Linked DNA regions of Homo sapiens. The protein of the gene in region 1 purifies or fractionates together with the protein of each later gene. This does not show direct contact. Each region holds a gene or a part of one and is shown on either strand. Other genes may lie near its edges.

Region 1 (3,818 bases):
TCATAAGAAAATTCAAATAGAAACAGATGTCCTTTTAACTTAGACAAGAAGCAGTCAGTACTGAATCTTACTGAACTATCTTTTTTTCTCTGAATTATTCAGTAGCTGGTCCAGATCACATAGAATTTTGAAGGCATCATATGAACAGAATTTTACCTTAGCAAGAAAAGATTTACCCCTTGACTGAATAACAGGAAGTAAACACAATAGTAGGTTTTTTCCTCCCTTTTGTTTACCAAAATATATGTTATATATGGTATTTCTCTAAACATTTAAGATGTAGATAATCTTCACATGCAGTTATATCATGTCTTCATCGTATTCTCTGTAAAATGGAATGCAGAATTGATTTTCCTCTTCTCTGACTACTAAAACTTCATTTCCCTCATTTTCACTATGTACTAACTTTTAAATTTCGTTTAGTCCTCTTTTTTCCCCTCTCTAATTTCTTTGGGAGTCGGGAGGTTGACAGTGAGTTGAATCAGAGTTGCTGATTTCTTTTCCTATGGCAGTAAACTCCCTAAAATAAAGGCCACCCTCCTAGCAGAAGCAGATGCTGTCTGTCAACTCTACTCCCCTCTTGCTGTCAAAAACTGACACCCAGCTGCAAACAATTTCATGTTTAGATGGTATATTAAGCAGAAGACGGACACCCCAAAAGAAGAAAGCCAACACTCGCTGTCTGACATAAGCATCAGGGTTAACAGGAACTGCTTGCTAAACCTTCCTAACTATGCCTGGTAGATCCTTGCTGTGGGAGAGAAAGACAAGGCTGATCTGAGTCACAGCTTTCTCTTTTAGAAGTGAGCAGCCTCAAGTGCCTCTCCCAGGCAATCAAGGAACCACAAAGTAAGATTCTCTTTCCCTTGACTACTATTTCAAATCTATTTGTCATAATTTCATGGAAATAAAAAAGCCCCCCCAAACATTCACCACTGGTCCCATCTGGGCCAGGAGAAAGCGGGTACCTTCTGGTTAACTTTGGTGGCGGCCACAGTCAGATTGTGTAGATCCTGGGGATTACAATCAGTTTCGTTCATGCAGCAGCTGGGGGGGATGCCATGCTCCAGGAAGTAGGGGCTGGTGCTCCAGTTGGTGTAGTTCTGCACACCACAGCAGCTCAGCTATTAACAGGGAAAGGAAAAGAATAAAAAAATGGCAGATCAAATGTGGTCTCCTCAATCACTGCCTTGTGACTTTTATAAGAGAAACACAGGCAAAAGCCCTAAGACAACATGTGCAGCTTTGGTGAGTCAAGATGAATGGAAGCTCCAATAACAATTATACCCATATTGATGCTTGTTTGATCTCCAAGAAGGAAGTTCTAAATTATATATCACATTGGCTTTCTTATTACCTCCACAAAGCAAAGCAGTGCGTCTGTGTCCAACTCACAATCACCTATTGATATAGATGTACTCATCCACTAAATCAGGACTATTGATTGGTGAGTTGAGGCAAATATGGTTTCAAAAAACTCTCCCCTGGGATATCTACTAATAAGTAAATAAATAGTTCTTAAGAAAAAAAGATGCACATACAGAAAGGGAGAGCCAAAGCTGGTAATCTATAGCCCAGGAGCTACCTGTTTTTGTAAATAAAGTTTTACTGGGACACAGCCACAACTATGTGTTCACATACTGTCTGTGGCTGCTTTTGTGCTACAGTGGCAGAGATGAGTAGTTGTGACAGAGTTTATGGCCCTCAAAGCCTAAAATATTTACTATTTGATCCTTTACAGAAGAAGTTTGCCAACCCCAATGTAGAGAATATTAAAGCAAACGGGGCAAAAATATAATTAATTGGTAAATCTGAGTATACAGTTCCTTGTAGTATTCCTGAGACTTTTCTGTATATGTTGGAACTTTTATCAAAATAAATTAGAAAAAAGACTTCTTCTGAAGTAAACAAAACCAAGAAAAACCAAAGCAAAATCCCCCTTAGTGATTCCTGATGGGCAGTTATGCTTGAGTGCCAGCACTTGCCACCCAGACAGGAAATCTCTCTTCTATTTCCCCCATATCCTCCGCAAAGCATCAGGCAGCTCACCACCTTCACATACCTAACAGAGCCTCAGTTTCTTCTAGGTCCACTCTATGCCCACTCCACTGCCCCAGCCAGTGAATGCAGCTCGCCTGAGCTCTCCACCCAGCCTGAAGACATCGATTCCAGAAAGCCAGCCTCCGGGAGCCAACTCTAAGCAAGGTTGTCACACACTCACTGCCTAACTCCTTCACAAGGGTTCAGATCTGAAGAGCAAATGAGCTGTCCTTGCCATACTTGCAACCCTTACTGATACAAGGCACACTCAAGGGAGTGGTCCTCCTTGACATTAATTACCTGAATAACTGGAGCCTGGACAAGGACTGGGTGTCAACTCTTGGCAATGGAACTGGACTAAGAGTTGAAGAACGGGAACAAATAGCAACTACTGGGCCAACCTACAGGCAGTCCATAAGTCTAAGCCTAGACTTCATAGTTAGTTCACACCCTCATCTCCTCTGGAACTTACGCTGCGCTGCACATGGTCCACTGCCCGGCTCCTCTCATCATTGCCATTGTAAGTCTGCATAGCGTCCGTGTAAGTCCTCAGGAAGGTGTCCTTGATCTATGGAAGACAAGGAGGGATGTGATTGCAGTCCACCACAGCCCAAACTGACTCCAATTCTTACCAAATTCTACCCTAACATAGCCTCTTCTGAAAGTCTCTGTATAAATGTAGGCCAGGGAGGCAATGCCCCATTTTCTGAGATGGAAAAGCTCAGAAAATTCACCAGGGGGTTTTTAAGCTCCGGAATTTAAAAAATTGTTCCCCTCAGCCTCAATCCAGAGAAAGCCTGACCTGCTGAATGACCTACTGGAGGGGCCTGTCCATTTCTGAAAGGCCTGTGATGGTGAGCTGCCAAACCTCAGGCATGAGCTTTCTACTTATTTTCTTTGAATTGATTAATACCCATCTTTCTATAACTTTCTCTGCCCTTACACAGGAGGCTCATAAAAGACAAACCACTTGGGTGGACAGGATGACTGATGTTTTGGTCAAAAACTGATCCCTGTTTTACCATAGGAGTGAGGCAAAACCAACTTTCACTTACCTGTCTTTATTGAGGCAAATTAAAAAAAAAAGATAATAAAGGACAAGAACTTAAAAAGGTTGGCTAGGTGCAGTGGCTCATGCCTGTAATCCCAGTGCTTTGGGAGGCCGACATGGGCAGATAACTTGAGGTCAGGAGTTCAAGACCAGCCTGGCCAAGATGGCAAAACCCAGTCTCTACTAAAAATACAAAAAAAAAATTAGTCAGGCATGGTGGCAGGCGCCAGTAATCCCAGCTACTTGGGTGGCTGAGTCAAGAGAATCGCTTGAACCCAGGAGGCAGAGGTTGCAGTAAGCAGAGATTGTGCCACAGCACTCCAGCCTTGGCAACAGAGCAAGGCTCTGTCTCAAAAAAAAAAAAAAAAAAAAAGTTAACAAAACCTTTTCTGTTACCACATTTGACTTTGGGGTAACTTTCAAGCTCTGTTTCCCTGGAAACCTGATGAAGGTGGAATGTCGAATGTGTTACCAGGCCACTGAGTTTATTGATAAAACTGACCCCCAATTGGTAAAATGCCTCCAGATTGGGAGGACAGCAAATGACAATAACTACTTGGTGGGAAGCTTAGGGCTAAGTATGGTGACTCTCCTAACTAGGCATATTCTTTGCTAAAATGCTGTAAACTATGTCCATGGGACAGTTACAAGAGATAGAGATACCAGTTACATGCAGCTTCTAAGCTAAGGTGGCTACCACACCCAGCTGTGTCATCTCATTTCGCTA
Region 2 (3,818 bases), on another chromosome or scaffold:
TCTGCCAATGTTAAGATTTGCCTCTCTGTTTGCATAGTCCTTGGTTACCCATGCTGTATTGGCATAACATTAGTTACAATAACAAATCCCAGAATATCACAGGCTTATTTGCAATGGTTTATTTCTCAATCACGTAATAGTCCAGTGTGAGTATTTTTAGTTATCAGGTGACTTTCTTCCATGTGGTAAGCCAAGAATCCAGGCTCTTTATCTTAGGGATTTGTCTGTATGATTTAAGGTACCTTTCATATAGTGCCTGTGTAATAAAAAAGGAATTGTTTTGTTTCTCATTTACTTCTCTCAAAAGTAAACTTTTTTGAAGGCAGGGATGATATTTCAGACCTTATGTTATCCATAGAATCAAGCATATTGCTTGGGATGTAGTAAGTAAGTGCTCAGCAAATACTTGTTGATTTGTTTGCCAGTAGTTCATAAAAACTGGATTTTTGTTTTTTCTTTTGTTTAGATCACTCAGTCCCTGGTGTTTCTGCTGTTGGCTACACTTTTCAGTGCATTGACTGGTTTGCCATGGAGTCTTTATAATACTTTTGTGATAGAAGAAAAACATGGCTTCAATCAACAGGTATAATAAAGAATACAAATGTTCTCTTTTAAATGTGAAAAACTTCTGTGCTTTTGTCCTGTACTGTTTATAATTTAAACATAATTTACTATTTCAGAGTATGAATTGAGAAAAAAGGGAACTACAGATATGGTAAAGATCATAGCTGAAAGTCTTGGGGGCCGCGGTGGCTCTGGCCAGTTGCCCTGGCACTCGGGGAGGCAAGGCTACATGTTCGAGGCCAACCTGGTCAACACTGATTTTAAAAAAAAAATACTTAAGGCCAGGCCCAGTGGCTCATGCCTGTAATCCCAGCACTTTGGGAGGCTGAGGCGGGTGGATCCCAAGGTCAGGAGATCGAGGCCATCCTGGCTAACACCGTGAAACCCGTCTCTACTGAAAATACAAAAAATTAGCCGGGCTTGGTGGTGGGCGCCTGTAGTCCCAGCTACTCGAGAGGCTGAGGCAGGAGAATGGCGTGAACCCGGGAGGCAGAGCTTGCAGTGAGCTGAGATCTCGCCACTGCACTCCAGCCTGGGTGACAGCAAGACTCCGTCTCAAAAAAAAAAAAAAAAAAAAAAAAGAAAGAAAAAAAGTCTTGACTGGGTACAGTGGCTCACGCCTGTAATCCCAACACTTTGGGAGGCTAAGGCGGGAGGATCACTTGAGTTCAGGAGTTCAAGACCAGCTTGGATAGTATAGTGAGACTTCATCTCTACAAAAAAATTCTAAAAGCCAGTTGTGGTGGCATGCACCTGAAGTCCCAGCTACTTGGGAGGCTAAAGCAGGAGGATTGCTTGAGCCCAGGAGGTTGAGGCTACGGTGAGCCATCATTGTGCCACTGTACTCCAACCTGGGCAACAGAGCCAGACCTGTCTCTTAAAAAAAAAAAAGAAATTTATGTTATAAACTCCTTTAGCACTAATATCTATTGTTTTTCAGCTACTAATCATTTGTTTGTTTGCGACAGGGTCTCGTTCTGTCACCTAGGCTGGAGTGCAGTGGCAGGATCATGGCTCACTGTAGCCACGACCTTCCAGATTCAAGCAATCCTCCCACCTCAGCCTGCCTAGTATCTGGGACTATAGATGAATTATACTACACTGGGTTAATTTTTTTATTATTATTTTTAGTAGTGACAGGGTCTCACTATGTTGCCCAGGCTGGCCTGGAACTACTGGGCTCAAGCAATCCTCCCATCTAGGCCTTCCAAAGTGCTGGAATTACAGTTGTGAGCCACTGCACTCGTCCTCAGTTAATAAGGTTTAAATGAATTTTCAGCTGTAAAATGCAAGACATTTACCCATTGTCTTAAGCTGCCTAATGTCATATAATATAGTTTCACTGCATGTTAATTTTAAAAATTGCTTTAATAATGTATCCTTTGTATTTATTTATCAGTTATTTTAAAAAGCAGAACCAGTTTCTCAGTTTCTTGTGGTAATGTTTTCTTTTTGCAGACTTTGGGGTTCTTCATGAAAGATGCAATCAAGAAATTTGTTGTGACTCAGTGTATTTTGTTGCCTGTGTCTTCACTTCTACTTTACATTATTAAAATTGGGGGTGACTATTTTTTTATTTATGCCTGGCTGTTCACATTAGTTGTGTCTCTGGTGAGTAAAATCTTTATTTCGTTTTCTTTTGCAAAAGTTCCTTGGTGAGATTACTGTAATCTTCATTGGCATGTAAACAGTTCTTAAGAAGCAGCTGAAATATAAATAGGTGCTTATATACATTTCCCCCTTGGTTTCTGCTTTTGATTGTAGACACAGGAGTATTGACTGACCATAAATTTCCTTCTCCTTATGCTAACTCTTCAGGTCATAGAAACTAGTTGTTAGTCACTTTTAATGATTCAGTTGTCAGGCAGTTTTGGGTTGTGCATTTGCGAGTTGCCACCAGAATGACTAAGTGTGATAATTTAATGACTCCTGACTGACCTCCACTGCCTAAAATCATGGTTATTTTGAAGAGAAATGAGATTTAAGAGGGACAAGAGAAAGAAAGCATATACTTAACTGGCTTTCTTCTGCTTCCCTTCCCTTGCCTTTCCCTTCCACGTTAGACACTCTCTCCCTTCTTTGCCCCATCTGCTTCCCCTTCCCCTTCTATCTTTTACCCATTCTTCTTCCTTTCCTTCTCCTGTCTTCCCTTTTCTCCCCAACTGCCACCTATTCCTGCCTCTCTTCTCCTTTCCTTTTCCCTCTCACTCTTTTCCCCCTGATTTTTCCCTCCCTCACATCTCCTATTCCTCTTCTCTTTCCATACTCTCAAGTGCTTCACAACACAAACACTACAACGCAGTCAAAATGGTCTGTTCAGGGCCAGGCACAGTGGCTTATGCCTGTAATCCTGGCACTTTGGGAAGCCAAGGTGGGAGGATTGCTTAAGCCCAAGAGTTTAAGACCAGCCTGGGTAACACAGTGAGACTCTGTCTCTACAAATAATAATTTTTAAAAAACCCAAATGAAAAAACCCAAAGTGGTCTGTTCAGTGCACCCAGAAATTATCATCTATCAGCTCTTCAGCTCCACTGATGAGGTTTATTTTATTTTAGAGATAGGGCCTCCCTGTGTTGCCCAGGCTGGAGTACAGTGGCTATTTCACAGGCATGATCATAGTGCACTACAGCTTTGAGCTCCTGGGCTCAAGCAGTCCTCCTGCCTTGGCCTCCTGAGTAGCTGGGACTACAGGTGTGTGACACCATGCCCAAGCTGAGGTTTATTTTAGTCTGAATTACATAATGCTCATTGTTTCATTTTCCATTGATGGGATCAAGATCAGAAAATGGGCGCTAGTTGGATTTACAGGTATCTATTGTATGGCAAATTAAAGTAAGATGAAAAAGAGCAGAGAAAATGCTCTAAAAATGCTTAAGGAAGTGCTATTTCAACCACATTGTACAATTATGAACTACAGGTAATTAATTTTAGCTGATAAGCCAACCAAGTAACAGCACACAATCAAGTTCTACTAATTCTTTTTTGGGAAAGACTTCAGGTCTATTGTGATTACGCTAAAAGGTAGAACTGCGTGTTATGATTGACTCATGAAGCATCAGAAATCCCCAAGATAGTTTTGAAAGGACTATACTTATTACCACCTAGAGATTTTAATCACTGTTAGTAGCATTATCCTTTAAAATAAAATTCATAAGTTTACTCTGTTATCAGACTACTCATTTCAATTTAATTCATCAGACAGATATTATGCTCTTACTATCTGGTACTATTTGGGCCTGGGAATACCAGAGCAA

Evidence for each region.
Region 2: the proteins of TSPAN7 (region 1) and ZMPSTE24 fractionate together in Homo sapiens (co-fractionation; one large-scale study listed by BioGRID). This does not show direct contact.

Annotation. Positions count from the first base shown.
Region 1 is NC_000023.11:38,673,011-38,676,828, reverse strand, and holds part of TSPAN7 (tetraspanin-7), read right to left. Parts: intron 2,609-3,818; coding exon 2,513-2,608; intron 1,125-2,512; coding exon 969-1,124; intron 1-968. UniProt on the Homo sapiens protein: May be involved in cell proliferation and cell motility.
Region 2 is NC_000001.11:40,267,953-40,271,770, forward strand, and holds part of ZMPSTE24 (CAAX prenyl protease 1 homolog), read left to right. Parts: intron 1-466; coding exon 467-583; intron 584-2,022; coding exon 2,023-2,175; intron 2,176-3,818. UniProt on the Homo sapiens protein: Transmembrane metalloprotease whose catalytic activity is critical for processing lamin A/LMNA on the inner nuclear membrane and clearing clogged translocons on the endoplasmic reticulum.